Linked DNA regions of Homo sapiens: regions 1 and 2 are each linked to region 3. The links come from fine-mapping of genetic effects on gene expression. A gene starts in region 3. Each other region holds a variant in brackets. All regions are shown on one strand. Distances are between the middles of the regions. Region 1 has its middle 57 kb from the start of MARCHF8. Region 2 overlaps MARCHF8 (membrane associated ring-CH-type finger 8). Region 3 holds the start of MARCHF8 (membrane associated ring-CH-type finger 8).

The links.
Region 1: its variant is fine-mapped to the expression of MARCHF8 in whole blood (TOPMed, PIP 0.96).
Region 2: its variant is fine-mapped to the expression of MARCHF8 in whole blood (INTERVAL, PIP 0.95).

Annotation. Positions count from the first base shown.
Region 1 is chr10:45,587,127-45,597,893 of GRCh38, forward strand. It overlaps a transcript of MARCHF8 not described here. Among named protein-coding and RNA genes, the nearest start is that of MARCHF8, 57 kb to the left of the region's middle. RefSeq lists an enhancer at 3,976-4,476 and silencers at 7,268-7,337, 7,438-7,597, 7,878-7,947. The variant T/C (reference allele first, on the strand shown) is at 5,983.
Region 2 is chr10:45,495,160-45,505,926 of GRCh38, forward strand. The region is part of intron 2 of MARCHF8 (membrane associated ring-CH-type finger 8); the gene reads right to left. All of the region lies in intron 1 of LOC105378286 (a long non-coding RNA gene), which reads left to right. Among named protein-coding and RNA genes, the nearest start is that of MARCHF8, 35 kb to the right of the region's middle. RefSeq lists an enhancer at 8,216-8,716. The variant T/C (reference allele first, on the strand shown) is at 4,399.
Region 3 is chr10:45,529,308-45,540,074 of GRCh38, forward strand. It overlaps MARCHF8 (membrane associated ring-CH-type finger 8), which reads right to left and starts at 6,064. Exons shown (of 8, transcript NM_001282866.2): 1 at 5,904-6,064; 2 at 3,803-3,982. The coding sequence starts at 3,904.

The DNA of each region.
Region 1 (10,767 bases), 58 kb after region 3:
AAATAGAAAGCACATGAGTGGAAAGGAAGACGTAAAACTGTCTTTATTCAATGACTGTATGTGGAGAAAATCCAACCAAAAGACTACCAGAACTAGTAAGTGGATTCAGAAAGGCTACAAGACACAAAGACAATATACAAAAATCAGCTGTATTTTTACACATTAGCAAGGAATACTTGAGAAATGATTTTTTAATCCTATTTACAATGACATTAAAAATGTAAGATATTAAGATATAAATTCAACAAAATATGCATAGGACCTGTACACTGCAAAACTAAAAAACATGTTGCAAGAAATTAAAGAACTAAATAAATGGAGAGCTATACCATGTTCATGTATTGAAAGGTTCGATGACATTAAAATAGCAATTCTCCACAAACTGATCTATAGAACCAAGACAATCCCAATTGAAACCACAAGTTGTTTTCTTTTTTAAAAAACCTAACAAGCTGATTTTAAAATACTTTTGAAAACACAAAGGACCTATAATACCCAGAAAATTTTTGAAAATAAGGAACAAAGTTGGAGGATTTACACTAACCAATTTCAAACCTCATATAAAGTTATAGATAAAGATAATATGGTACCGACATAAGAACAGACAGCAAAAGCAACAGGAGAGAGTCCAAAAGCAGATCCACACATACATCACCAGTTGACTTTCAACAAAAATGCCAAGAGAACTCAATGGGCAAAGGATAGAGAAAGGGGAAGAAACTCAATAGGGAAAGAATTACCTTTTCAACAAATGATATTAAAAAATGTATATTAGACCAGCTAGCTTGAGCCCAAGGCCTCCTCGGACAAAAAATAAAATTAAAATTAAAAAACTGTGTATTCATAAAGGAAAGTAAAGAACCTAGACCCATAGCTCATACCAAACACCCTATCAACCCCTAAAAATTGATCATGAACCTTAATAGTGGAGCTATAAAACCTCTAGAACATAGGAGAAAATTCAGTAGGCTTTTTTTCACACAATATTTCAGCTATCCTTACATGCTAATAAATATATTTTTTCATTTTGTCAAAAGTAAAAAAAAAAAAAGAAAATCCTTACAAACTGTGAAAACATGTCTTCATTTCTTAAATGAAATTTCGAAACACTTTCCTTATCCATACAGTCATACAACATTTCTTCAACTGAAGAACAGAAATATTCAAAGGAAAAGAACAAAAATCTTTTTAACCTCCTTTCATATAGTTCCTACAAGAACGGGTTGGCTTCTATGAGACGGTAGTTTTGCCTTGATGATTCTTTTTTGAGTGCCTTTGCTGAAGTCATAAATAAATAAATCTCCCAACATATTAATACCACTTATGTTTTAAATATAAAAGTTACCAGAAAACCATACCAATATGTGAAATGTTATGTACTGCTATATTGTCTTAAAATTGCCTGTTTTGGTTGATAAAGACTTGTATTATACAGAGATTACACATTTTTTCAAACTGTAATAAAAGAAATTTTAGCCATTTTAAGTATAATTTATCCCCAATAATTGGCAGGATATCTCAATAAATGTATCATTGACTATTGGTTATGAATTGTGGTTAACAAAATAATGAATAAAAGAATCCATTATAGGCCGGGTGCAGTGGCTCATGCCTGTAATCCCAGCACTTTGGGAGGCCAAGGTGGGTGGATCACGAGGTCAAGAGATCGAGACCATCCTGGCTAACACAGTGAAACCCCGTCTCTACTAAAAATACAAAAAATTAGCCTGGCATGGTGGCAGGTGCCTGTAGTTCCAGCTACTCAGGAGGCTGAGGCAGGGAGACTGGCATGAACATGGGAGGTGGAGCTTGCAGTGAGCCAAGATCACGCCACTGCACTCCAGCCTGGGTGACAGAGCAAGACTACGTTTCAAAAAAAAAAAAAAAAAAAAAAGAATCCATATTATAATTTAGTAATTTAATCACCATAGTTTTCCAGAAAACTAAAATTTAAAAAATACACATTGCAACACTGCTGCTTATGAGTGTTTACTGTTGCACACAAGTTAACCCAAAACTCAGTAGTTTAAAACAATGGACATTTATTACCTCATAGTTACCATAGGCCAGAAATCTAGGCACAGCTTAGCTGGGTACTTCTGGGTCAAAGTCTATCATGGGGTTGCAGTCAAGCTGCTGGCCAAGCTGTGGGATCCTCTGAAGGCCTCCATGTATTAAAAGGATATGGTTCCCATCTCAGTCACATGGCTATAAGCAAGTCTCAGTCCCTACCACCTAGGATTCTCCAGGAGGCATACAACATGGCATCTTTGTTAAAAAAAATTTCCTTCTTTCCACTAATAGCTTTTTTGCAGGTGTGCAATTCAATAGTTTTTAGCAAATGCACAGAACTGTACAACCATCACCACAATCAATTTTAGAATATTTTATCACCCCAAAAAGAAACCTAGTCCTCTTTAGCTGTCAAACCCCCATTTTTCCCCACCCCCTACCCCAACACCAGTTCTAGGCAACCAGTAATCTACTATCTAATTCTATATTTGTATTCTGGACATTCCATATAAATGTAATCACACAATGTGTTGCCTTTTGTGACTGTTTCTTTTATCACTTAGAATGTTTTCAAGGTTCATCCATTTGTAGCATGAGTCAGTACTTCATTCCTTTTTATTCCTGAATAATAGTCCACTGCATGGATAGACCACATTATTTAAACCATTCATCAGTTGATATATGTTTGAGTTGTTTCAACTTTTTGGCTATTATGGCTACCGCTACTGTGAACATGTACATACAAATATTGGCATAAATATATGTTTTCATTTCTCTTGGGTATATACCTAGGAGTGGAACTGCTTTATCATCCCTTATCCCAAATCTAGCCATTTCAAGAACTGCCAGACTGTTTCTCAAAGCAGTTGCTCCAGTTTACATTCCAACATGTAGATTCCAATTTCTCCACAACATCACCAACACTTATTATTACCTGTCTTTTTTATTATACATAGCCATCTTAGTTTACTAAGATGGTCACTTAGACAGTCACTTAGTAACCGTCTTAGTTACTTCGTTGGTGTAACATGGTATTTCACTGTGGTTTTGATTTCCATTTACATGGTAGCTAATGATGTAAAACATCTTTTCATGTGCTTACTGGCTATTTGTATGTCTTATCTGAAGAACTGCCTATTCAAATCCTTTGTCGATTTTTTTGAGTTCCTTTTCTTTTTATGACTGAGGTATAAGAGTTCCTTAAATACTCTGGATACTTACTCTGGATACTAGACCTTTAATAGATACATGGTTTTCTCATACCAAACACTGGGGAGCATGTAGACAGGATAAAAACAGGAACTCTCCCACTGCTTGTAGGACAATAAAACCGTACAGCTACATTGGAAAGCAATTTGTATCTAGTAGTTACTGGTGTACGCACCTGACAAACAACAACTCCAATCCTAGATGTATATTCCAGAGAAATTCTTACCTTTGAAGAAAAACATGGATGAAACTTAGTAACTAATTTAAAAAGTTGCAGGAAAAAAAGTCCACATAGCATGATGCCATTTATATAAAGTTTAAAAATATGCATAAGCAAACAATATTTTGGGGGGATATACATATACAACGTAAAATAACATTATCAAGAAAGCAGGCCAGGCGCAGTGGCTTATACCTGCAATCCCAGCACTTTGGAAGGCTAAGGCAGGCAGATCACTTGAGGTCAGGAGTCTAAGACTGTCAGGCCTGAGCCCAAGCTAAGCCAACATATCCCCTGTGACCTGCACTTATACATCCAGATGGCCTGAAGCAACTGAAGATCCACAAAAGAAGTGAAAATAGTCTTAACTGATGACGTTCCACCATTGTGATTGGTTTCTGCCCCACCCTAACTGATAAACGTACTTTGTAATCTCCCCCACCCTTAAGAAGGTTCTTTGTAATTCTCCCCACCCTTGAGAATGTACTTTGTGAGTTCCACCCCTTGCCCGCAAAACATTGCTCCTAACTCCACCACCTTATAGGTGTTGAGAAACCTATAAGAACTAATGATAATCCACCACCCTTTGCTGACTCTCTTTTCGGACTCAGTCTGCCTGCACCCAGGTGAAACAGACAGCCTTGCTGCTCCCACAAAGCCTGTTTGGTGGTCTCTTCACATGGACGCCTGAGACACAGACCAGTCTGGCCAACATGGTGAAAGCCTGTCTCTACAAAAATACAAAAATTAGTAGGGCATGGTGGCGTGTGCCCATAGTCCTAGCTACTTGGGAGGTTGAGGCAGGAGAATTGCTTCAACCCAGGAGGCAGAGTTGCAGTGAGCCAAGATGGTGCCACTGCACTCCATCCAGCCTGAGTGACAGAGCAAAACTCTGTCTCAAAAAAAAAAAAGCAGCAGCAGCAGCAAGCAAAGAAATGACAGACACAGAATTCAGCATGCTGGTTACCTTTGAGAGGAAGGAAGAAGTACACAGGAGGTCTCAATGCTATTGGTAATATTCTACTTTTTTCAATACATACTCTTATATGCGTGACACATTTAATAAACATTTTTTCAAAGAGCTTCACTGACAACTGAAGGTCTTTCTAATACAGAAAGACACCAGAGCAGTTCAAAGTAAATATAAAGGAGATGAGAGCATCACAGTGAACCAAACACCACACATACACAATATTGTAAAGTATTTTAAATCCAGCAAAGTGTATGCTTTGTAGAACTGAGAAGACAGATTCCTTGCCCTTATCCACTTCTTTCCACCGTTCTGTCCACCTCTGTCTTCCTGATCCCACCTCTACTTCCATGTCCAGAATCCACTTCTACCTCCTCCAGAGATTTTCTTCCATATATCAATCTGAAGGGCACCCATCCTTCCTCTCAATTTCCATAGCATTTGTACCTCTTCAAAGCCTTCATCATATTATCCTCAGATTACACGTTTTAACTCCTCTATCAGAAATTAGCACCTGGAGAACTAGAACACCAGTCACATCATCAACCTGGCTCTCCAAACACACCAAATTTTTTGTTGACTATTGATTTAAAAAATGAATTAGAAAATTCAGGCATTTCCAAGTGAGTTAAGAAATTGGTCTGGACAAGAAAGAAAGAAAGAGTTTAAAATTACACTCCTTGAAAAAGAATTTCAAAATTGAAAACCCTTCAATACAGCAAAGACAAAGCTGACAACAGTCAGATAAAATATAAAATGTTTATAGTGTATACAGTGATAATTTTTCATATTCACAGGGAACAAAATTAGAAGCCATAAGAATAACTTCCTGATTACTTGGCATCAGAACAGTCCACGGCTTTAGAAAATGTCTTGCAGTCAACCACAAACCTAGGGAACAGGTAGGGTTGTAAAGTGTCTTTTACGGGGGGGAAAAAGCACATACCATTTCAAGGCTCGAAAAAATGAGGTTACTTTTAGAAATTTCAGCAATATTTTTAACTTGCTTTCAGATATTTTAAACTACTTACCACCAGAAGTATAAACCTAAACATTATGTGATTATAGCAGAAATGGAACTACTACATAAGGGAAAAAGAAACAAACCACAAGTGAATCAACGACAACCCTCAAGAACCAGACGCTACTACTGACAACCATTAGGGTTTCTTGGCTGCTTGAATCAATTCATTCCCAGCTCTGCTTTGAGCTGGCACTAATTTAAAGGAGACAAAAATGTTGGAGCTAAGGCTGCCAGATTTAGGAAATATAAATACAGCAAGCCCAGTTACACTTTAATTTCAGACAAACAACGAATCTTTTTTTTAGTACAAGTATGCTCCCACGTAATATTTATAGTAAAAATTTATTTTAAAAATTTTACAAAAATTCACTGTTTATCTGAAATTCATATCAACTAGGCATCCTGTATTTTATCTGGCAAACCTAGCTGGAGCCAAAAGGTAGAATAGTAATCAATCCAATTTCCTCATTTTTCAGCAGAAACTGAGAACCAAAGAAAGGAACTGACTTGCTTAAGCTTAAGCCAAAGATCAGGGAAGTAAGTTGG[T/C]TTTGAAAAGAGAAAACCTTTCCACTAGGTCACCTTGGGTACCACTTACAGTACATTCCACTTCCAATTCTTGCTCAACTCACAGAAGCACCAAGCAGACAAGGTGTAAAAGAGTATGGTTTCCCTCTTGTAACATTAAACTTCAAGTTTCAGTACATCTCTTAAAACCCTAGTCTCCAAAATCAATTAGGAAACTATGTGCTACTCTTAAAAAAAAAAAACCTGATAATTTTGTCTACACACTACCACCTCATACTGTTTATATTTTCACTCACCATATGAAACAGGACATCCTTCTCTCCTGAACTCAGTTCTCTCAAAATCCAAAATTCTCTTGCTCCAGGGTCTCAAGATTTCACACAAGAGCATGTTCACATTATTTCATGACTCTCAACGACTTGAGTTCGTATACTCCTTCAGTTTTCATGCTTTTTAGCGTTTTCATGTTTTTCAGATATGTCCTAACCCATTCGGTTGGCCTCAAAAGTCTCCCATTCCCATTCTGTATCGGAGCAACTAAATCAGCAATGAGGAATGAAGTCTCACTATTATAAACATACACTTACTTCCCCAGGGACTGGGATGCAAGGAAACATGGAAAGAGAAACGTCTTTATCAGAAATTTTGGGGCCAAAAAGGCCCCGAAGTATGGTATGTGAGGGTTATGCTAGCTGTCTAATTACATAGCATGCAATCGAACAAAATAAAGAGAAAAATAACAGAAAACTCCACACATGCAAAGAATTCATTTTCCAGATCCCATCAAATTAAAAAATACACAAAACATTTCCTCAACTCCATACAGAGCTCCTCAACCTATGACTTGCAGGGGTCCTCAAGGGTAGTTAGCGTGGGGATGGGTGGTGAGAATAGTGATAGTGAGGCAGAAAAGGGTTCCATTTTTATTTATTTATTTTTACAATTTGGGCTTCCAAATAGGTTTTAAGAAAAAAAGGTTTTGTTGCATTAAAGAAACATGAAAACGGTAACATAAACCATTATAACCCCCACCCAATAAGTTTTCTATTAAAAACTTCACCCAGGTGGACAGGAATACGAATCGTTTAAGATGAAAACAGATTTAAAGACCAAAGAAAAGTTAGCAATTAAAGGACAAAATAGTTACCTATGCTTTCCTTCTGGCACCCCGAATGTACGCAGGTCTCTCGAGATCACACGTCAGACGTGGAAGGTCCTCACGGATCACTAGTCCGAGCTTCCATTTTACAGATGTGCACACTCAGGCCAAAGACGACGGCTGACGGGCCAACGTCTCACAGCCGGTCAGGGAAAGGAATTCACCTGGCACCCGGGGCGGCCGGCCTAGAGCCCTGGGCGCTGACCGTTTCTGCGATTCCTGGTTCCGCTCGGCCCGGCCCCAGGGGCAGACGCGAGCACCGGGGCAGAGAGACCCACTGCCTGGAGTCGCGCTGCCTCTCCGCGGGCTCCACGCCGGGCCCGCAGCGCAGGGATGGGTCCTTGGCGGCCGCCCCCACCCAGCCCAGCCCAGCCCAGCCCAGCCCAGCCCACCTGTAGCCGACGCGCTGCCGGCAGCCACACCCCCTGCCCGGGCCGGGGGCTCGGCCGCCCTTATTGGCGGCCAGCGGCGGCGGCTGCGCGCGGCGTGGGGGACTCCGATCCTAGAGGCCGCAGGAGTTACCTCAGGTGGGCTCTGAGCTGGCGGCGCTACCGCCCTGGCCCGCCTCGAGCATGCCCGAGACGTGGACGCAGCAAGGCCGCACCTCCCCCAGCGCGTCGCCTGTTTACACCCTACGCCCCTCCGCGGGAGGACACCGAGTGGCAGGTCACGTGACGCGGGCGTCACGTGTCCGGCCGAGTTGGGTGGAGGCGTTGCCCCGGCGACTGCAGCGCGCTGGGGGCGGGCTGCAGCGGGTGCCGCCGCGCGGCCTTTCTGTGCTTCCACCCCTTCGCAGTGCCCAGGCGACAACCCACTGGGCTTGGAACCGAAAAGACTTCCCCAGCTCTGTGTGTGTCGTTTAGTGTCTCCTGGCCCTGACTACATGTTATTAATATTAGTGTTTTGGAAGGAAAAGGAAATTTTGTCTGGCAAAAGGATGTTTTACTTGGAGAAGAAGATGGAAAATACTTTCTTACCTGAGGCTATCAAACGGGAGGAAAAGCGAAGGAATAAGTAATAACGGTTTTTGCCTTGACAGATTTTTGTTTGCTTTCGCTCCCTAATCTGGACTGAAAGATTCCCACAGCATAGCCTCTCAGCCAGAGAAAGCACGTGAAGGAGGTTTATACGACTTCTTACTTTTAAGTTGTATTTTAATTTTTATGGGGGAATCATCTCTGTGTACATACAGACGTCTAAATATTTGATTCTGCATTCATCTCTTTTTTTTTTTTTTGAGACGGAGTCTCACTCTGTAGCCCAGGCTGGAGTGCAGTGGTACGATCTCGGCTCACTGCAAGCTCCACCTCCTGGGTTCACGCCATTCTCCTGCCTCAGCCTCCCCAGTAGCTGGGACTACAGGCGCCCGCCACCACGCCCGGCTATTTTTTTGTGTTTTTAGTAGAGACGAGGTTTCACCGTGTTAGCCAGGATGGTCTCAATCTCCTGACCTCGTGATCCGCCTGCCTCTGCCTGCCAAAGTGCTGGGAATACAGGCATGAGCCACTGCACCGGGCCAGACTCTGCATTCATCTTTTGTCCACATAAAACTCTCATTATTCCTCTGTCACTTTCATCACTGTCTACCAAATCCAATTTTCCTACATCAAACTTCCCAGAAATAGTTTCAACCACTGCCAGTTTTATTTCTCCCATAATCATGCATAAAAGATGAATAATTTGTATTTCTTAGTAAATTCATGAGTGAATTATAAGCAAATCCTCTCAAATATTCCATAGTTGTTCTGTTGTCCCGGAGTGATCTATCATATAGCTAATCAATTCCTCCCTACAATTCTGACCACTTTGAATTTTTGGCTAAGTAAAAAGCAGATTGTCAGGTTCAAAACAGTGTGCTCAAGATATCCTCTGGATCAGCAAGGTCAAAACATCTCCATTTCTATAACACACTTACAATACAGTATTACAAAGAGCAGAAAAATGATGAATTTTCTCCATTTGTCTTTTACTGTGGAAAATAGGTTATCAAGGCCAGTTGCCACAACCTGGTTGGCTCTACTGCTTCTGGCAGCAGGTGTTCCATGAAGGTAGTACCAATATCTTCCATTGGTATAGCTTATGCCTAGACCAGGCTTGTTGAGCCAAAGGGTTGGCTGACTGATGAATGGATATGGAATCCTGTCATCCTTCTACAGGAAGCGGCAGAACCTTCGTAGTTCAACAGGGATCTGTGAGCTATGCAGGGCTGATAAGCAGCACTCATGGAGACAAAGCTAGGGTGAGTCCTGGCGCAACCATTACTGTCTAGGCAATTTCCTTAACCTTTCCGAGCCTCTCTTCAGCTTTCTGAAAGATATCTACTGAATAGAGTGGTTATGAGACAAAATGAGGTAATGCCTGTATAACACTTTTAAGTGCCCAATACATACAGTGTTGGGTAAATGTTAACCAATATGGTCTTTGGCGACGGGGTATTAGTATAGGAGGTCAGAGTCCTGAGGGAAAGGGAGCTGACAACTTGAACGTGTCCAGGTCCTGGGTCCAGATTCTTGCCACCTGGAGTGTAGTTCAAGAAGGGATTGCCAGCCAGGCGTGGTGGCTCACGTCTGTAATACTAGCACTTTGGGAGGCCGAGGCAGGCAGATCACCTGAGCTCAGGAGTTCAAGACCGGCCTGGCCAACGTGGCCTAGCCAACATGAAACCTCCTCTCTACTAAAAATACAAAAATTAGCCAGGCATGGTGGCGGGTATCTGTAATCCCAGCTACTCGGGAGGCTGAGACAGGATAATCACTTGAACCTAGGAGGCAGATGCTGCAGTGAGCCAAGATCATGCCACTGCACTCCAGCCTAGGTGACAGAGTGAGACTCCATCTCCAAAAAAAAAAAAGGGGGGGGCGGATTGCCAGCAAGGAAACAAAGCACAATTGGGAAGAAACTGTTGCACTCAGAATGTAAGGCAGCCAGTAAGGGAATTGCTCATAGGGCACCAGGTGCTCACTCCAAGAGGCATACTGGCCTTGTGGCAACAGCTTAATTCCAAATCCTCCCTGCTTGTGTTAATGGGGACTCCTAATACACTGCCTTTCCTTTGCCTTAGCCCACATAGGGAAATTACCTACCCTCTCCTACAGTTTGTGGGACATGAAGACATAAGAAAGAATTCAGGCTTGAGCCAAGTGATCAGTGTTATCTCCAGAACCAGTCACACTGACTCCCTACCAAATGGTTAAATACATCAACCCATCAACCATGTTCTAGTTTTGTTGTTGTTGTTGTTGTTGTTGTTTGAGACGAGTTTTGCTTGTGTTGCCAAGGCTGGAGAGCAATGATGCGATCTCAGCTCACTGCAACCTCCACCTATCTGGTTCAAGCAATTCTCCCATCTCAGCCTCCTGAGTAGCTGGGATTACAGGCGCCTGCCACCACACCCAGCTAATTTTTGGTATGTTTAGTAGAGACAGGGTTTCACCATGTTGGCCAGGCTGGTCTCGAACTCCTGACCTCAGGTGACCCGCCCGCCTCGGCCTCTCAAAGTGCTGGTGTGCCCGGGGTTGGTTCCTTCTGGTGGGTTCTTGGTCTCACTGACTTCAAGAATGAAGCCACGGACCTCTGCAGTGAGTGTTACAGCTCTTAAAGGTGGCACGGACCCAAAGAGCGAGCAGCAGCAAAATTTATTGTAAAGA
Region 2 (10,767 bases), 34 kb before region 3:
AAACCTTTGGATTATGTAGGGTTTTATCTATGGGTATTTGCAATATTAGACATTAAAACTGACAGCGTAAAAACTATATCTCTTAATTCATTTAGCATTAGTAATAAACCCAGTTAACATAAATAACATTTCAATGAAGTTTAACTATTTTCTCAAAAAAAAAAAAATTAGTGAGCAGAGTGGCACTCCTGTACATTTTTATAAATCTCATTGTTTAATAGAAGACAGCTAGATTCCTGCATCTGTTTATGTATTAAATCTCTTCTGATCTGATGCTTTTGTGAGGACCCATTCAAAACTCAGAGTTGACATAATCATGATTTTAAGCTGAAGACATCTGATATTCAATGAATGCAGGAAGAAGCCCTCTCCATACTTCCCTTATATGATTAAAAGCAGAAACTGTGACAAATGAGGCTGCCATAAATTCCCTCTTCAACGGTTTACTCCCAGGAAGGAGATCAAGAGTAAACGTACCATAATTCCCCTGTCTAGGAGGAGTTTTATGGCCATGAAGAAGAGGAAAAGACACTCCCATCTACACAAACATTATCACAAGCTTTCTTATCTCTTAATTTGTTAGGAGGGGAGGGGAGGGGAGGGGAGGGGATGCTAGGGGAGGGGAGGGAGACAGGCAGGAAGGTGGGGAGGGGAGAAAGGAAAGGAAGAAAAGAGAAAAGAGAAAAAAGAAAAGAGAAGAAGAGAAGAGAGAAAAGAAAAGAAAAGAAAGGAGAAAGGAAAAGAAAAACTAAAAGCAGCAGGAAATAAATGACTCATCATATTCTCCATGGTACATGGGAACCACAAAAAGATTAACAGCTGACTTATCCTCAGAAACCAGGGAGGCCAGAGACAGTGGAAGGACATAAAGAACTCAAAGAAAAAAAATGTGAACCAAGATAATTATATTCAGCAAAACTATCTTCAAAAATGAAGATGAAAAATACATTCATAGATAAACAGAAACTCAGAGAATTCATTGCAAGTGGATGCACCTGAAAAGAAATACTAAAGGAAGTTCTTTGAGTTGAAAGCATGTACTGCCAAACAGTAGTCAAAAGTAACTGTGTAACTATAAGACAATATAAATGCATATATATTTTGCATATATATTTTCCTTTCTTAAATAATTTAAAAAGGAATTATATAAAAACTATGTTTATAATTGTATTGTTAAACCTATAACATAAAGAAATGTAATGTATTTAATAGTAATACAAGATAAGTGGGTACAAAGTTGTCATCATTATACTAATATCAGACGAAACAGAATTCAGAAAATTTTACCAGAGATAAAGAGGGACTTCTACTATGAAAGGTTGGCATAAGGAAATGATATCACATGGAAACTCTACACTGAAACAAATGAAGATAATAAGGAGTGCTAACTTTAAAATAACAAACTGTATAAACATATAATGCTCTCCTTTCCTTTATGTCTTTAAAAGACAGTTAAATAAACTAATAACTGCTACAATGTATTGTTGGGTTTGTAACATAAATAGATATGTATAAACAATAATTAGTAAAGAAATAGAGGTACATAGGAGGAATCATTCTATGTCTTACAGGAATTAAATCAATATGAATCTGAAGAAGATTCTGTTAGAAAAATATATATATATATAGTAAACCCTCAACCATTAAGAAAATAATTTTTTAAATAGCATTAGAAATCTTTTTTAAAAATCATTTAAGGAATTAAAATATTACAATACAAAATAATGCAAAAGAAAGCAATAAAGGAAGAACACAGGAACAAAAATGGCAAGACACATAGAAAACAAAAAGTAAAATGGCAAACAAGCAAACCATATCATTAATAGCATGAACTGCAAATGGATTAACAAATCAACAGGAAGGGTTGTCAGGATGTACAATAACACAAAATCCAGTTGTATTCTAAGTTCAGGAGATACAATTAGACTCAAAATTATAAACAGGATTACAGTAAAAGAAGCAAAAAGATACATAGCACAAAAACAACCACCATAAAAAGGGGTAGTCATTATATTAATATCAGATAAAAAAGACTTAGGAAAATTTTACTAGAGCTAAAGAGGGACTTTTACTATGATAAGGTCAACCATCATGAAGGTATAATAATTATAAATATATAAGCACCTAATATGAAAACCACAAAATACATAAAGCAAGAACTGACAGAGCTGACTGAAAAACAGATAATACTTGCAGACTTCAAAATCCTGCTTTCAACAATGAACAGCCGAGCTATGTAAAAGACTTGAACAGCACTAAACCAACTTGACCTAACAGACATCCACAGAATACAAAACCCAACAACAACAACAGAATATACATTCTTCTCAAGTGCACAACAACAGACTATAGAGTAGTCCACAAAACAAACATCAGTAAATGTAAAAGGACTCAAATCATATACAGTATGATTCTGGCTACAACAGAGTTAAACTTTAGAGTTAAATGTTATTGTTTATCAACAGCAGAGAGAAACTACCAAATTCACAAATGCGGAAATTAAACAACAAAATCTGAAATAACCAGTAAATCAAAAAAGAACTCACCAAAAAAAAACTAGAAAATTTATTTGAGATTCATAAAAATGAAGTCACAAAATACCACACTTACACAATGCAACTAAAATAGTGCTTAGGGGGATATTTATAGCTGTAAATGACAAGATTAAAGAAAGGTACAGAGAAAACGCAGTCATATGTAAGTCAGAAAGAAAGGCCTACCAGAAACCAAATTTTCTGGCAACGTGATTTTGGACTTCTTGTCTCCAAAAATGTGAGAAATTAAATTTCTGTTACTTAAGCCACCCAGTCTGTGGTATTTTGTTATGGCAGCCTGAACAGACTAATACAAACATCTACTAAAAAACTACAGGTAACATTATACTTAATGGTGAAAGATTGAATGCTTACTCCCTAAATTTTAACAGCAATTCTATCTGCTTTCACCATTTCTTTTTAACATTTTAATTGTGGCAAAATACACACAATGTAAACACACCATCATATAAAGTATGCATAATATAAAATTCACCATCTTAACCATTTTAAGTGTACAGTTCAGTATTAAGTATATTCACATTGTTGCACAATCTACAGAACTTTTTCATCTTGCAAAAACTGAAACTCTATACTCATTAAACAATTCCCTATATCTTCCTACCCCCGAAATATTTTTAAAAATTTTTACTTTCTGTTTCTATGATTCTGACTACTCTAGATACTTTATACAAGTGGAATCATAACAGTATTTTTCTTTTTGCGATTAGCTCACTTCACTTGGCATAATGTCCTCAAGATTCCTCCGTGTTGTAGCATGTGTCAGAAGCCTTTTTTTTTTTGAGAAGTCTCGCTCTGTCACCCAGGCTGGAGTGCAGTGGCATGATCTCGGCTCACTGCAACCTCTACCTCCTGGGTTCAAGCAATTCTCCTGACTCAGCCTCCCAAGTAGCTGGGATTACAGGTATACACCACTACATCCAGCTAATTTTTGTATTTTTAGTAGAGATGGCATTTCACCATGTTGGCCAGGCTGGTCTCAAACTCCTGACCTCAGGTGATCCTCCCTCCTCGGCCTCCCAAAGTGCTAGAATAACAGGCGTGAGCCGCTGTGCCCAGCCAGAATCCTTTTCTTTTTAAAACAAATGTGAAACTATATGCAATAAATGTACCATATTTTATTTATTCATTCACCCTTTGATGGACACTTGTATTGCTTCCACCCTTTGGCACTGTAAATAATGTTGCTATGAACACAGGTATACAAATATCTCTTTGAGACCTGGCTTTTAATTCTTTGGGGTATATACCCAGAAGTGGATTTCCTGGGTCATACAGTAATAATTATCTTTTACTTTTTAAGGAACTCCTATACTGTTTTCCATTGTGGTTGCACTATTTTACATTCCTATTAGCAGTGCACAATCAGCGTTCCACTTTGTTCGGATCCTCATCAACACATTTTTAAAATATATATAACAGCCATCCTTGATGGTTGTAAAGTGGTATCTCACTGTGGTTTTGATTTGCGTTTCCCTAATTATCAATGATGTTGACCATCTTTTCATATGCCTACTAGCCATTTGTATATCCTCTTTGGAAAAGTGTCTATTCAAGCATTTTAGAATCAGATTATTTGTTGCTGTTGAGATGTAGGAGTTCTTTATATATTCTAGATATTATCCCTTTATCAGATATATGATTTGTAAATATCTCCCATTCCCTAAGTGGCCTTTCCACCCTGTCCACTGTTTCCTTTGATGCCCAGAAGTTTTAAATTTTGATGTAATCTAATTTCTGTATTTTTACTTCTGTTGCCTTTGCTTTTGGTGTCATATCCAAAAAATTTTTGCCAAATCCAAAGTCAAGAAGCTTCTTTCCCTAGGTTTTCTTTTAAGAATTT[T/C]ATAGTTTTAAGTCTTAGATCCATTTTGAGCTAATCTTTCTACATGGTGTAAAGTAAGGGTCCAATTGTATTCTTTTGCCTCTTAATATCCAGACCCCTGCCACCCCCACCAATATCATTTGTTGAAAAGACTGTCCTTTCCTCACTGACTAGTCTCGGCGCCATTGTGGGAAATCATTTGGCCAAATATGTGAGGCTTTATTTCTGGGACTCTCTATTCTATTCCATTGGTTTCTATGTCTATCTTATGCCAGTACCACACTAACTTGTTTACTGTAGCTTTGTAATAAGTTTTGAAGTCAGGGAGCATCACACCATCACTTTGTTCTTTTTGTTCAAATTGTTCTGGCTATTCAGGATCCCTTGTGATTCCATATAAATTACAGGACAGATTTATCTATTTCTGTAAAACAAAAGTCACTGAGATTTTGAGAAGGATTATACCGAATATACAGATTGATTTGGGCAGTACTGTCATCTTAACAATATTAAGTTTTCCAATAAACACAGGATGTCTTCCCATTTATTTTATGTCTTCTTTAATTTCTTTCATCAATATATAGTAGTTTTCTGTGTATAAGTCTTTACCACTTTGGTTAAGTTTATTCCTATTTTATGCATTTTTGATGCCATTGTAAATAGGACTGTTTTCTCAATATCCTTTTTAGATTGTTCATTATTAGTATATAGAAACACAGCTGATTTGTGTGTGTGTGTTGATTTTATAACTTGAAACTTTGCTGAATTCATTTAGTCTGATTTTTTGTTTGTTTTGCATGGAAACTTTAGGGTTTTCTATATAAAAAATTTTGTCATATGTAAAGAGATAATTTTACTCCTTTCCAATTTTGATGCTTTTTACCTCTTTTTCTTGCCTAATTGCTCAGCTAGGATTTCCAGTAATGTGTTGTACAGCAGTGGCAAAACCAGGCAACCTTATCTTGCTCCTGATCTTAGAGGAAAAATTTTCAGACTTTCGCCAATGACTATAATGTCAGCTGCAGACTTTTCATATATGGCCTTTATTATGTTGAGGTAGTTTCCCTCTATTCCCAGTTTCTTGAATGTTTTCTACTATTCTGATGCATCATAGTGCCAAAAGTTCTAGCCACCACAATTAGGAAAATAAACAAAATAAAAGGCATATATATCAGAATGAAAGACATAAAAATCTCTATCTGCACATGACATGAATGCTTATGTAGAAAATCCTAAGGTATTAACAATAGCAACAACAAAGTCCTCGAAGGAGTCCAGCAAAGTCAGAGGATACAAAATAGACATACAAAAATTAACTGCATTGCTATATATATATATACATATATATAACACACATATAGCAATGAACAAAAGAACTCACAATTACTATTATAGAGCCACTCTAAAAAAACTGAAGTATTTAGGTGCACATCAAGTAAAACATGAATCTGATTGCTGATGCTGCAAAAAAAATTGATCAAAAATGATCTCAACATATAAAAATACATACTGTTCCTGGAATGAAAAATTCAATATAATGTAAGCTGACAACTCTTCCCCAAATTGATAAACAGCTTAAACATAATTCCTATCAAAATTCTAGCAAGTTTTTTTTTTAGATATAGACAGGTTATTCTAAGATTTATATGGATAGGCAAAGGAACTAGAATACTTAAAACAATCCTAAAGAATCCTAAAAGAATAAAAAAACTGGGAGAAATCCATCCATCCAATTTCAAGAACTAATATACAGCCAGAGTAATCACTACTGTGTGGTACTAGTGAAGAACCAGACATAACCATCAATGGAACAAGACAGAGAATCCAGAAATCAACCCATACAATATGCCCAACTGATTTTTAAGAAAGCAATTCAATAGAGGAAAGAGAATTTTCAACAAATGATGCTGGAACAAAGCAATGAACTTTGACTTGAGTCTCAAACTTATACAAAAATTAACTCAAAATAGTTCATGGACTTCATGTATAATCTAAAACCATAAAACATTTTAAAAAATAGGAGAAAATCTTCAGGATTTAAGGTTGGGCAAAGAGTTCCTATACTACACACCCAAAGCAGGATCCATTTAAGAAACTGATCAATTAAACTTCATCAAAATCAGAAACGTTTGCTCCATGAAAGACCCCGCTAAAAGGCTGAAGATAAAAGCTATAGCCTGGGGGAAAATATTTGCAAATGAATATCCAATTAAGGACTAGTATTTAGAATACAGAAAGAATTCTTAGACCTGAACATTTTTAAAAATCCAATTAGAAAATAGGCAAAACATGTGAAGGGACATCTTAATGAATAGGATACTCAGATGGCAAATAAGCACATGAGAAGATGTTCAACATCACTGGCCATTAGATAAATGAAAGTAAAATCACAATGAGATATTACTACACACCTATCAGAATGGCTAAAAATTTTTTTTTAAATAATGACATCACCAAATGTTGAGGATATAAAGAAACTAGATCACTTATATATTGCTTGCAGGAAAATAAAATGACAGTTATCCTGGAAAAAACTTTGGAAGTTTCTTTAAAAATTAAACATGAAATAGCTATTGCTCTCCTGAAGATTTACCTTGGAGAAATGAAAACACATGTTCACATAAAAACCTATAGGTGTCTATAGCAGCTTTGTTCAAACAAATGTCCTTCAACAGGTAAACGGTTAGAAAACTGTGGTCCGTGCATAACATGGAAAACTACTCCACTAGTAAAAAGGAACAAACTATTGATAAACACAAACCTGGAAGAAATCTCCAGAGAATTACACTTAATTTAAAAAGCCAATCCCAAATGGCTACAAATTATTCCAAACAGTAAACGAGAAAGTACGGTGCTGGCAAATATTTGAAGAAATTTGTTAAAATTTTCCCAAGTTTGGAGAAGGACATAAACCTATGCATTCAAAAAACTGAATGAACTACAAGAAACCTATGCCCAGGCATACCATAGTCAAATTAATGAAGACAAGAAGAAATCTGGAAAGCAGAGAGAAAAAAAGGATGCATTACTTATAGAGGAACAATGATTCAAATGACTGTGTCTTGCTCATCAGGAAACCCTCAAGGCCAGTAGTCAGAAGTAACATCATTTTTCAAATATTGACAAAAGAGACCTGTTTACCTAAAACTAAGTATGTGGTGAAAATATATTTCAGGAATGAAGGGAAATAAAAACAGTCACAGACAAAGAGTAACAACAAGATTAGCAACCAACAGAACTGCTTAAAAGAAATTCATCACATGGAAGGAAAATGATACCAGAAAACAATGTGTATATCAGCAATAAAGAAAGAGCAACAGAAAGGCTAAGCATTCAGACAAAAACAATTGACTATTCTTTTTCTCTTGATTCTTTACATTTGACGGCTGAAAGCAAATAATAATAATAATAATACATTCTATGAGGGGCTCTGAAGGTATGCAATGTAGAATGTAAGATAACTGTAACAGAAAGGGGGAAAGTGAAAGTTGTGATATATTTTCTATATTTTAGCGAAGTTTCTACACTACAATTGAAGTAGCAAAATACTGATTCTAAATAGACTCTGAGAAGTATGTATTTTGTAACTCATTTTTTAAAAAGCAAAGAGATAGTCAAACTCCAAATAGATAAATATAGCAACAATTAAGTGTACATAAACACTGCAATTACAGGACACAAATGTGGAGAACTGACTTTTTAAAAAAACAACCAATTATGGCCGGGCACGGTGGCTCACACCTGTAATCCCAGCACTTCAGGAGGCTGAGGCGGGCAGATCACGAGGTCAAGGGATCAAGACCATCCTGGCCAACACGGTAAAACCCCGTCTCTACTAAAAATACAAAAATTAGCTAGGCATGGTGACGTATGCCTGTAATCCCAGCTACTCAGGATGCTGAGGCAGGAGAATTGCTTGAGCCCGGGAGGCAGAGGTTGCAGTGAGCCGAGATATCGTGCCACTGCATTCCAGCCTGGCGACAGAACGAGACTCCGTCTCAAATAAATAAATAAATAAATAAATAAATAAATAAAATAAAAACTAAAAATAAATAAAAAACAACCAATTATATGCTATCTATAGGAAACTCGTTTCATTGATACAGGTAGTGTAAAATAAAGGAATGGGAAAATATATACCAAGCAAACACAAATAAAAATTTCCAAAAGGTAGAAACAACTCAAATGTCCATCAACACATAAATGGAGAGACAAAATGTGGTATTATCCATACAATGGAATATTATTCAGTCATTAAAAGGATATAAATACTGACACATACTACAATATGAACCCTGAAAACATTATGCTATGTATGTAAAAGAAGCCAGTAGCAAAAGATCATATATTATATGATTCCATCTATATAAAATGTCAAAAATAGGCAAATCCACAAAGACAAAAAGTAAATTCGCAGTTACCAAGGATTGTGGGGATGGGAGAATGGGGAGTGACTGCTAATGGGTAGAGGGTTTCATTTTCGGGTGATGAAAATGTTCTGGACTGGCACAGTGGTGGCAGCTGTACAACCTTATGAATACACTAAAAATCTACTAATTGGGCACTTTAAAAGGGTGATTTAATGGTATGAAAGCTGTATCTCAACTTTTAAAATATACTAAGGTCTGGCCTGGCACAGTGGCTCACGCCTATAATGCCAGCACTTTGGGAGGCCGAGACGGGCAGATCACCTGAGGCTGGGAGTTCAAGACCAGCCTGACCAACATGTAGAAACCCCGTCTCTACTAAAAATACAAAATTAGTGGGCAAGGTGGCACATGCCTGTAATCCAAGCTACTTGGGAGGCTGAGACAGGAGAATCGCTTGAACCTGGGAGGCGGAGGTTGCGGTGAGCCGAGATCGCGCCATTGCACTCCAGCGTGGGAAACAAGAGCGAAACTCCGTCTCGAAAAAAACTAAGATCCAAAAAATAACCTATGATGTATAAAACACTGTGCTATACACCTTGTTTTTTCTCCAGTGTTTTTTCTGTATAAGCTAATCAATACAGGACACCAGCTATCTAATTACAAGCCATTAGCACAAAGCTAGCACTGGATATTGGAAATTTAAGTGAATGGACACTCACTCAGAATCTAACAACAAAACACCATACAGTATGAATTTCATTCTTATACTGTAAACATGGTGAATAAATATAGCCAATTTTCTTTCTAGATGGTGTTTCCTAAATTTAAAGAGGATACTAATGACTATAATCAGAGCTAAGGATGTCAAGATTCATGTTCGCGTATCTGGCATGTTTAAAAGAAAAATATGCCAATTTGCTGAAAATACTGTCACTTTTAGCACTAGTATTTCCCTTACTGCGTCCCTCTTCCTCCTGAGTAGGGGCTTATACTGAGTGGCCAGAGATCATTAACAATTCCGACATTCTACAAAGGTGGCCCTACATTCTGCATTTCTACTTTTATAAGAGACATAAATTTCATTTTATTGCTCATTTCGAGCTGTTAATTATATATACAATTAAGCACTTATGCCTTCTTGCCTTTAATCAAGATCTCACTGTTCAAAAAACAAGACATATTATTAATCCAGCTACTCCTGAATAAGAAAGAAGGATTGCCTACTTCACAGCACAGGATCAAGACCCGCCTTGATGGCTCCCTCCATGGCTCAGTTTGTCCCTATCACAAATCAGAGTTTCCAACACTATTCTCTCCTTTACCTTCCCCTGAAGAGCCCTAAACTTCTCAGCATTGACTTTCAGTAGGATTGGGTCCCCACTCCCAGTCCTAGGGGTAGACACTATCCTAAAACAATCCCTGTGGCAAGAGACTGCCTGACTTCACTTGTATCTATTAAGCCAATTTCACATATTAGGGTCTGTTACTTGCAACTACCCAGTTGCTATCGCCAAATTCTGTTACAGTTAAGTTGCTATCCATTTATTTGTTTTTAATCAATACCACAGGCTTGTAATTAATGCCAGATGTGATCTAGTTACTGTTTAAGCCAGAAAACTTCTGTTTCCCAGCAACATTCTACCCCTACTTTTTCCCACAGTGACTGGTTGAAGAACAAGATAACATTAATTGCTTTAGGCCAATTAGAGCCATCTGGAGCTACAGGTGATTCTATCCTATTCAAACCACATGGCTGTGAAATTTGGGACCTCCAACAAATTATTTCCCAATGGGGATTCGGTTTTATGGTCTGGCCATTTTATAAAAATCTCTAATCTTTGTGAATGGTTTAATGGGTGAGCAACTATAAATAGTCTGGTTTGTTAGTTTTTTTCTGTTTGTCTATTTGTCTGTTCTCACCACGAATCAATTAAGAATTCATGCTCACTGGGAAGAGAGCAACTCTTTGACACGGACTGATGAGTTTTATAATTCTGTATTTGCCATGGCCCCATAGTTG
Region 3 (10,767 bases):
CTTAAGATGGATTAAAGACCTGAAAGTATAAAGACCTGAAAGATCTGAAACTATAAAGATTCTAGAAGAAAACCTAGGAAAAACTCTTCTGGACATTGGCCTAAGGCAAAGAATTCATGCCTAGGACCTCAAAAGGAAAGCTACAAAAATGAAAATAGACAAATGGGACTTAATTAAAATAAAAAGCTTCTACACAGCAAATAAATAATCAACAGAGAAAACAGACAATCTACAGAACAGGAGAAAATATCTGCAGACTATGCATCTTACAAAAAGCTAATTTGTAGACTCTACAAAGAACTCAACAAGAAAAAAATAACCTTTTTAAAAAATGGGCAAAGGGCATGAACACATATTTTGCAAAAGATGACATACAAATGGCCAAGAAACATTTAAAAAGTTAGAAATGCAAATAAAAGCGATGAAATACCATTTCACACCAGTCAGAATGGCTATTACTCAGGTGTCAAAAAAATCAATAACAGATGTTGGCAAGGATGCAGATAAAAGGGAATGCTCACAGACTGTTGTTGGGAGTGTAAACTAGTACAGCTGCTATGGAAAACAATATGGAGACTTCTCAAAGAACTAATAGAAATACCATTTGATCCAGTGATCCCACTACTGGGGATCTACGCAAAGGGAAAGAAATCATTATATCAAAAAGATACCTGTACTCAAATATTTATTGCAGGACTACTCACAATAGCAAAGACATAAAATCAATCTAAGTGCCCATCAACGGATGATTGGATAAAGTAATCCACATCATGGAATACTACTCAGCTATAAAAAAAGAATGAATTCATGTTTTTTTGTAGCAACATGGATAGAACTGGAGGTAACTATCTTAAGTGAAATAACTCAGAAAGAGCAAGTCAAATATCACATATTCTCACTTACAGGTGGGAGCTGAAAAATATGTACACAGGGGCATAGAGAGTGGAATAATAACATTGGAGACTCAGAAAGGTGGGAGGATGGGAGTGGGTGAGGGATGAGAAATTACCTCATGGGTGCTTATGTGCACTATTCAGGTGGTGTAACAACACTGCACTTGTACTAAATCTATAAATAATAACAATATGAGAAACTGGGTGTCAGGTATATGAAAATACTCCATCCTAGCTTAACAATTTTTCTGTAAATCTAAAACTAGTCTGAAATAAACTTTTACTTAAAAATGAAACTGGGCCAGGTGCAGTGGCTCACACTTGCAGTCCCAGCAATTTGGGAGGCCAAGATGGGAGGATTGCTTAAGCCCAGGAGTTTGAGACCAGCCTGGGCAATAGCAAGACCCCGACTCTACAAAATGAAAGAAAAACTTATCCAGGCATGGTCTATAGTGCCAGCTACTTGGGAGGTTGAGGCAGGAGGATCATTTGAGCCCAGGAGTTCGTGGCTGCGGTATGCTGTGATCACGCCACTGTATGCTAGCCTGGGCAACAGAGCAAGATCTGTACTCAAAAATAAGTAAAAAATAATAACAAAAATGAAAATAAAACTGACCGAAGTGAGGGAGAAAAGCAAACTCAGAATAGTCACACATGCCAACAATGACAGAAAAGAGGACTAAAACTGTCATTATAGCTGTTATTTCATATACTAAAAAAGTTGCATAGAGACATGGAAGATATAAAAAAGATCCAAAACAAATGTCTAGTGATAAAACATGTCTGAGATGAAAAACACACTAGACGGAATTACTGGCAGATTAGATATTGAAAAAGAAAATATTAATGAAATTATAAACAAAGTAATTGGAATATCCAAAATAAAATGCAGAAAGAAAAAATAACCTTAAAAAATTAAAAGTGCAGCAGTGGACAACTTTAAGCCAGTCAATGTGTATACTGGAGTCCCCAAAGAAAGAATGGGGGGACAGAAAAAGTATCTGAAGAATAGCCAAAAAGCTCCAAATTCTATGAAAATTGTAAACCCACTGATCCACAAGCACAACTTCAGAATACAAGAAACAAATAAAAAATATTTTTTAAATAAAGCTGAAAGAAGTCATTGTCAGCCAACTCACATTATAAGAAATGCTAAAGTCCTTTAGACAAAAGAAAAATGATAGATGGAAATACACCAGAAATGGTAATTATCTGAGTAAACAGATCTTTATTATTATTTAAAAGAAAAGTATTTAAAGAGAAAGTATTTTTTTAAATATATTCTAGGGTTTAAAATTTATTAAAAGACAATAATGAAAAGGCCAGAAGGAAAGAAATGAAAGTATACTATTGTAAGGTTCTCATACTGTATTTGAAATAAAAGATCATCTCCACAGTGACATGACCCATATCACTGAAACTGAATTCATATTCACTCATTCATTCATTCATCAACTGTATTGAGTACTGTATAAAAGTCATTAACCCTCTGTAGAAGTTATGGGCTTCAGCGAGGGTGTGTTAACAGATTAGACTAAGCAAACAGGTGGATTATTTGAGTCTAGGTAAAATGCAAGGGTTCACTCTTCTTATGGGACTCAGTAGGAATAATATCTCCCAAGCACAGGAGGATCAGAAATCATAGCAAAAGATTTTGGGTTGAACCTGTGCCAGGAAAAACTGCATAAATAAAAATGGGCTCCACTGGACAAAAATTTACCTTTCAAATCAAACCTGATACCACAATTGAGACCCTAGAAACACAACCACTATTTTCATCCTGTGCCATTGCTGCTGAAGCTCTCACGGGGCCCTGCAAGTTCCTGGTTCAACTGCTCTTCCACTACTGCCACCTCATCTGGGCTCCACGACACCCTGAACTGTCAGGCTGCCACTGGGTGTTCAAACCATCCCCACACTAAGGTAAGACAGAATGGTTTCTCTTTCTTCCCAATACCAATAAAAATCCCCATTCTACAAATAATTGATTAATGCTATTTATTTAGACCTTAAAAATCCCATCAAATAGATAAATTCAATAAGGCTTTATTAAATAACCACCTACAGTAAACCTGCAGTGAGGGTGTATATCAAAAAGAATCTCCCTTCCTGGCCTAACTGTTGGACATTTTCCTTTTTCTATTCCAAACAAGTTTGTATAGCTTCCCCATGTACACACTATTATGGACTAAATGTTTATGTTTCCCACAAAACTTTTATGCCAGAACTCTAATCCATAATGTAATGGTATTTGGAGGTGGGGCCTTGGGGAGACAATTAGGTCCTAGGGGTGGAACCCTCTCCATGGGATCAGTCCTTCTATATGAACAGCCACATGACAGCTTGCTTCCTTCCTCCCTCTATGCCATGTGAGGACACAGCAAGAAGGCAGCTGTTTATAAGTCAGGAAGTAAGACCTCACCAGAATCCAACCATGCTGGCACCCTGATCTCAGATTTCCAGCCTCCAGAACTGTGAGAAATAAATGCTTGTTATTTAAACCACCCAGGCTATGGCATTTTGTTACAGCAGCTAGGGCAGACTAAGACACATATTAAGAAATTCCAGCCATCTGGTGTCCAAATTTCACACTACGATGAATAGGAAACTAGCAGCATCATGTTCTGAGAATCCAAAGAACTTAGTCACAGTGATTAACCAAAAATAATCAGGTAGATTTAACCAATGAAGATAAGTCATTTATAACCATTTATAAACAGTAGTTTACACCAAAATCTGAAAACCTAGAAATCTACAAAAAGACAATTCCTTCTGAGTACAACTATTTGTGTGCTTGTCAGTATATTATCAGAGAAAACCTGACCTTTAGAGTTTAAGCACTGTTCTAGGTCATCTTTAATAAAAATTTAATAAAAATAATGAAACTAAAAAAGATACTCTCCCAGTACCTGTTCTTCCCTCTCCTTTTCTTTGGTCTTACTTCTGTAGACTCTAGCAGAGATGGCATCCTGGGATGGAATGGCAGAGATCTGATGCAGTGGCATGCTCATCCCAACCTCTTATCTGGTCGTCTTCTTCACAGAAGAGAGTCTCCACTGGTAGAGTCATTTTGGGCCATGGATTTCAAGCTGAGAGAAAATGAAGAGAGAATAAACATAACTCAGCTAAAACACTTTAAATTTCCAAGAGTGAGCTTAACATTTTATACTTATATTCATATGTATATTTAAATAAGTTACGGCAACATAAATGTTTGGTCTTCAAAAACAATAGAAGATGAATGTCTAAGGGGAAAATTCTAACATTTCTCATAATAAGATGGGAGCACCTGAAAGAGGCAGGTGGATCACGTACATGTATAATCAGAGATATAATCTTCCATTGGCTACTTAGGATTAAAACAAAGCAGTGCCACCATTTATTTTAAGAATATTTTTGAAGTTAAACTTTTTTTTTTATCATGACCAAGCATTTGTCCTGAAATAAGCAGTGATCTTTCCTTAAAACCACTGTCTGTGAGTCCACATAATGGTGAGATCAGAGGTTAGGAAGTCCAAATTAAACTCAAGGTATCTATGATCCATACTTAACCTTCCAAAAGTAGAGACTCTACACGAGCTGTTGGCAAACTATTCCTATAAAGGGCAAGATACATATTTTAGGCACTGTGGTCCAAGTGTGTTCCAGCTAATTAACTCTGCCACTGTAGCATGAAAGCACCCATAGAGAGCATGTAAATGGGCCGGGTGCGGTGGCTCATGCCTGTAATCCCAGCACTTTGGGAGGCCAAGGCGGGCAAATCACGAGGTCAGGAGATCGAGACCACCCTGGCTAACACGGTGAAACCCTGTCTCTACTAAAAATACAAAAAATTAGCCAGGCATGGTGGCGGGCGCCTGTAGTCGCAGCTACTCAGGAGGCTGAGGCAGGAGAATGGCACAAACCCAGGAGGCGGAGCTCGCAGTGAGCCAAGATCGCACCACTGCACTCCAGCCTGGGTAACACAGCGAGACTCCAACCCCCCAACCTCCCCCCCACCAAAAAAAAAAGAGTATGTACATGAATGAGCATAGTTATGTTCCAATAAAACTTTATTTACAAAAATAGGCAGCAGGCTAGATTTGGCCCACCAGACTATAGTTTGCCAAACACTGCCGTAAAGGGTTTCCTAGGGAATATGAAGGGTCACCATGACATGCCTAAGAACCATGAGAAAGGCTGCCTTTAGGTAAAATAACAGTGTATGCATAAACTGTCTTCAGTGATTCCAGGTACTCCTGCCCTGTTTCTGGTTTTCTCTTACGCATCCCCCAAAATGTCTAATAATTGAATTGTGTGTTGTTCTTTCTCCCCACTTACCCACTGAGATCTATCCCACTCTGTATACAAAACCAATTAAACGTAAATTATCCAGAAGGTTTAATGTAGTAAAATGTTTCATGTTGTTCAAATTTTAACAGAAAATGGAAGCCTTCAACCAAAAGAATGAATCTCGAATTTGGAGATTTTCATTTATTAACCATGTGCTGGGGTAGGGGGTGGGGACAGGTGAGGCAGTAGGAAAAGGTAGGGTAAACAACAGGGCCTGACAACCCCAAGGTCACATTTGATAAGCAGTCACTTACTCTACCTCTCCCCAAACTCTACTCTGGATCAAAGGCAGGTGTTTGTAAGGCTGGTGCCAATTCTTAGTAGTGTCACTAAGCAAGCAGAGGAGCACCAGGAATCACGAAATGGCTTCCTTCACACAACTCTAGAATCAATGAACAACAAAAAGGAACAAAAACTGGGAGGGATCAACACATAGAAGAAAATTAGCTAAAATAATAATCTGTTTATAAAGTCTAGTTTTACAGTAAGTGAGTGACCATTGATAATAACAACAAAAAAAGGAAAATAGAATAGGGGATGTTAGTGTCTAGGTATCACACACCACCTACTCTATTTCAAGCCTTTGATGAGGCTGGCATAAGATGGAGCACTACTGTGCCCAAGAAACAGTCTGAATGTTTGTATTCAAGCACGTCACACAAAACAAGAGGCACTTACTGCGGAGCTGCCTTATACTCCCTGGGAGATCACAATAGTCAGTGGTAAGCAGTTTTTTCATCACTAATGCACTAACGTCCTCTATTACAGATGACAAACTCCATGGGGCCTCTTGGAATACTTGGTCAAACTGACGATATCCACAGCCCTATACCTACCATGCCAAAAGCTACCTGTGGTGCTTCTGATATAATCATCATTATTACATCATTGGTACATGCCCATGACAAGCCTGAGAAGGGCTATTTATGGCACAGAAACACAGATGCAAGAGGGTCTCAAATTTTTTACAGTTTTGAAGGACATCCCTCCTCACTGTCATTGAAGTTAGTCTTTTGATATGTACCACCACAACAAAGCAACAGACCTATAAGTTTGCCTGAAACAATCTCCCTCCTATGCCACACATATTTAGGATAAAAATGAGTTTACAAACAAACGATAAAACAGGCCATGCCATTTTTTATGTGAAGATTTACATGAAAAATACAAATCATATATTACATTATTTTCTTTGCATAATTTCCAAACATCTTTTATATCAACTAAATTAATCTTTACACAGAATAACAGTTAAACCTCAGCACTATGCCTCACAATCCAGGCATGAGGGCTTCAATTTGACTAATGCTAACTTGCAAAATACAGCCCACCTAACATGAACATTCACATCTAGAAGAGATACTGCCAAAGCTGGTTGTTGAAGAAATTGGAAATGGATGTCCATGTTCATGGATCAGAAGATTTAATATTGTTAAAATGGCAATTCTTCCCAAGTTGACATAGAGAGTCAAAGCAATCTCTATCAAAAACTGAGCTGACTTCTTTACAGAAATTTGACAAGCTGATCTGAAAATTTATATAAAATTCAAGGGACTCAGATCTGCCAAAACAACCTTGAAAAAGAACAAAGTTGGAGAGCTCACATTTCCAGATTGCAAAACTTACAACAAAGGAACAGTAATCAAGACTGTGTCATACTGGAATATGAATAGATATATCAATGGAATAGAATTTAGGGCCCAGAAATAAACCCACGTATCTATAGTCAGCTGATTTTCAAGAAGGGTGCCAAGATCACTTCTTGGGGAAAGAGTACTGTTTTCAACAAATGGTGCTGGGACAACTAGATAGCCACATGCAAAAGAAATTTGGATCTCTTCCTCACACAAAAGGAAAAACAGACAAACTACACATCATCAGAATAAAAACTTTTGTGCTTCAAAAGACACCACTGAGAAAGGGAAAACACAGCCAGTCATAATGGTTCACACCTATAATCCCAGAACTTTGGGAGGCCAAGGCAAGAGAATCTCTTGAGGCCAGAACTCAAGAAAGGCCTGGGCAATATAGCAATACTCTACCTCTATTTATAAATGTTAAAAAAAAAAAAGTCTAAAGACAACTGACAGAAGAAAAAGTTTGCAAATCATATATGTAATAAGGGACTTGTATCTAGAATATATAAACAACTCTCTTACAACTCAGTAACATAAGGGCAAGGCCAGGTGCAAGTAGCTCACGCCTATCATCTCAGCATTTTCGGAGGCTGAGGTGGGAGGACTGCTTCAGGCCAGGAGTTCAAAACCAGTGTGTGAAACATAGCGAGGCCCCATCTCTACCAAAATAATAATAATAATAATAATAATAATAATAATAATAATAATAATAAAGACAAATAACCCAATGAAAAATGGGTTAATCAACATCATTAGCCATCATGGAAATACAAATCAAAACTATTAGATATTACTTTAATTATGTTCATAATAAAAGACAAACAAGTGTTAGCAAGGATGTTGTGACACTGAAACCCTCATATACTGCTAGTGAGGATCTATGCAGTCGTTTTGAAAAATAGTCTGGCTCTTTCTCAAAAGGTTAAACATGTTATCATATGACCCAACAACTTCAATCCTAGGGTATATACACCAAAGAGAAATGCAAACATCTCCTCATATGAAAACTTGTCCATGAATGTTTCTATCACATTACTCATGATAGCCAAAAGGTGGAAATAACCTAAACGTCCATCAAATGATAAACGGATAAATCAAATAAGCTATATCCATTCAACGGAATCATATTCAGCAATAAAAAGAAATAAAGTACTGACACATGCCACAATATGGACGAACCTTTAAAAAGTTATGCTAAGTAGGCCAGGTGTGGTGGTTCGCGCCTATAACACCAGCACTTTGGGGGGCCAAGGTGGGTGAATCGCTTGAGCCCAGGAGTTCCAGACCAGCCTGGGCAACATGGCAAAACCACATCCCTACAAAAAACTCAAAACTTAGCCGGGTGTGGTGGCTCATGCCTGTGGTCCCAGCTACTCAGGAGGCTGAGTTGGGAGGATCGCTTGAGCCCAGAAGGTTGAGGCTACAGTGAGCCGGTATGGCGCCACTGCACTCCAGCCTAGGTGATACAGTGAGACCTTGTCTCAAAAAAAAAAAAAAAGAAAAGAAAAAAATTATACTAAGAAGCCAGTCACAAAGAACCATATATTACATGATGACAGTTGTATGGAATGCCCAGAGGAGATAAATCTATAGAGACAGAAAGTAGAGCAGTGCATGCCAAGAGCTGGGGTAGGAATGGGTAAACGGGAGGAAGCAGTGGATTCAATGATTTATTTTTAGGATAATGAAAATATTCTAAAATTGACTATGGTGCTGGTTGCAGAACTTTCGAGTATATTAAAGCCATAGAAATAGTAAAAGGACTAAGATAGATAGAGAAAATTTTAATTTTTCCTTTGTGTTATCCCTAATCTAACTAATCTAGATGACATGGAGATGGCTACTGTTGCCCTATCTCACTCACCCTTCCAGTTTTAAGAAGGCGATAGAAAGAGTACAAAGGTTGGGTTACCCACAAAGGGAAGCCCATCAGACTAACAGCTGATCTCTCGGCAGAAACTCTACAAGCCAGAAAAGAGTGGGGGCCAATATTCAACATTCTTAAAGAAAAGAATTTTCAACCCAGAATTTCATATCCAGCCAAACTAAGCTTTGTAAGTGAAGGAGAAATAAAATCCTTTACAGACAAGCAAATGCTGAGAGATTTTGTCACCACCAGGCCTGCCCTAAAAGAGCTCCTGAAGGAAGCACTAAACATGGAAAGGAACAACTGGCACCAGCCACTCAAAAACATGCCAAATTGTAAAGACCATCAAGGCTAGGAAGAAACTACATCAACTAACGTGCAAAATAACCAGCTAACATCATAATGACAGGATCAAATTCACACATAACAATATTAACCTTAAAAGTAAATGGACTAAATGCTCCAATTAAAAGACACAGACTGGCAAATTGGATAAAGAGTCAAGACCCATTACTGTGCTGTATTCAGGAAACCCATCTCACGTGTAGAGACACACATAGGCTCAAAATAAAGGGATGGAGGAAGATCTACCAAGCAAACGGAAAACAAAAAAAGGCAGAGGTTGCAATCCTAGTCTCTGATAAAACAGATTTTAAACCAACAAAGATCAAAGGAGACAAAGAAGGCCATTACATAATGGTAAAGGGATCAATTCAACAAGAAGAGCTAACTATCCTAAATATATATGCACCCAATACAGGAGCACCCAGATTCATAAAACAAGTCCTTAGTGACCTACAAAGAGACTTAGACACCCACACAGTAATAATGGGAAAGTTTTAACACCCCACTGTCAACATTAGACAGATCAACGAGACAGAAAGTTAACAAGGATATCCAGGAATTGAACTCAGCTCTGCACCAAGCGGACCTAATAGACATCTACAGAACTCTCCAACCCAAATCAACAGAATATACATTCTTTTCAGCACCACACCTCACCTATTCCAAAATTGACCACATAGTTGGAAGTAAAGCTCTCCTCAGCAAATGTGAAAGAACAGAAATTATAACAAACTGTCTCTCAGACCACAGTGCAATCAAACTAGAACTCAGGATTAAGAAACTCACTCAAAACCACTCAACTACATGGAAACTGAACAACCTGCCCCTGAATGACTACTGGGTACATAAAGAAATGAAGGCAGAAATAAAGATGTTCTTTGAAACCAATGAGAACAAACACACAACATACCAGAATCTCTGGGACACACTCAAAGCAGTGTGTAGAGGGAAATTTATAGCACTAAATGCCCACAAGAGAAAGCAGGAAAGATCTAAAATTGACACCTTAACATCACAATTAAACGAATTAGAGAAGCAAGAGCAAACACATTCAAAAGCTAGCAGAAGGCAAGAAATAACTAAGAGCAAAGCAGAAGTGAAGGAAATAGAGACACAAAAGACCCTTCAAAATAATCAATGAACCCAGGAGCTGGTTTTTTGAAAAGATCAACAAAATTGATAGACCGCTAGCAAGACTAATAAAGAAGAAAAGACAGAAGAATCAAATAGAAGCAATAAAGAATGACAAAGGGGATATCACCACTGATCCCACAGAAATACCAACTACCATCAAAGAATACTATAAACACCTCTATGCAAATAAACTAGAAAATCTAGAAGAAATGGATAAAGTCAATTAGGAAAAGAGGAAGTCAAATTGTTCCTGTTTGCAGATGATATGATTGTATATCTAGAAAACCCCATCGTCTCAGCCCAAAATCTCCTTAAGCTGATAAGCAACTTCAGCAAAGTCTCAGGATACAAAATCAATGTGCAAAAATCACAAGCATTCTTACACTCCAATAACAGACAGAGAGCCAAATCATGAGTGAACTCCCATTCACAATTGTTTCAAGGAGAATAAAATACCTAGGAATCCAACTTACAAGGGATGTGAAGGACCTCTTCAAGGAGAACTACAAACCACTGCTCAATGAAATAAAAGAGGATACAAACAAATGGAAGAACATTC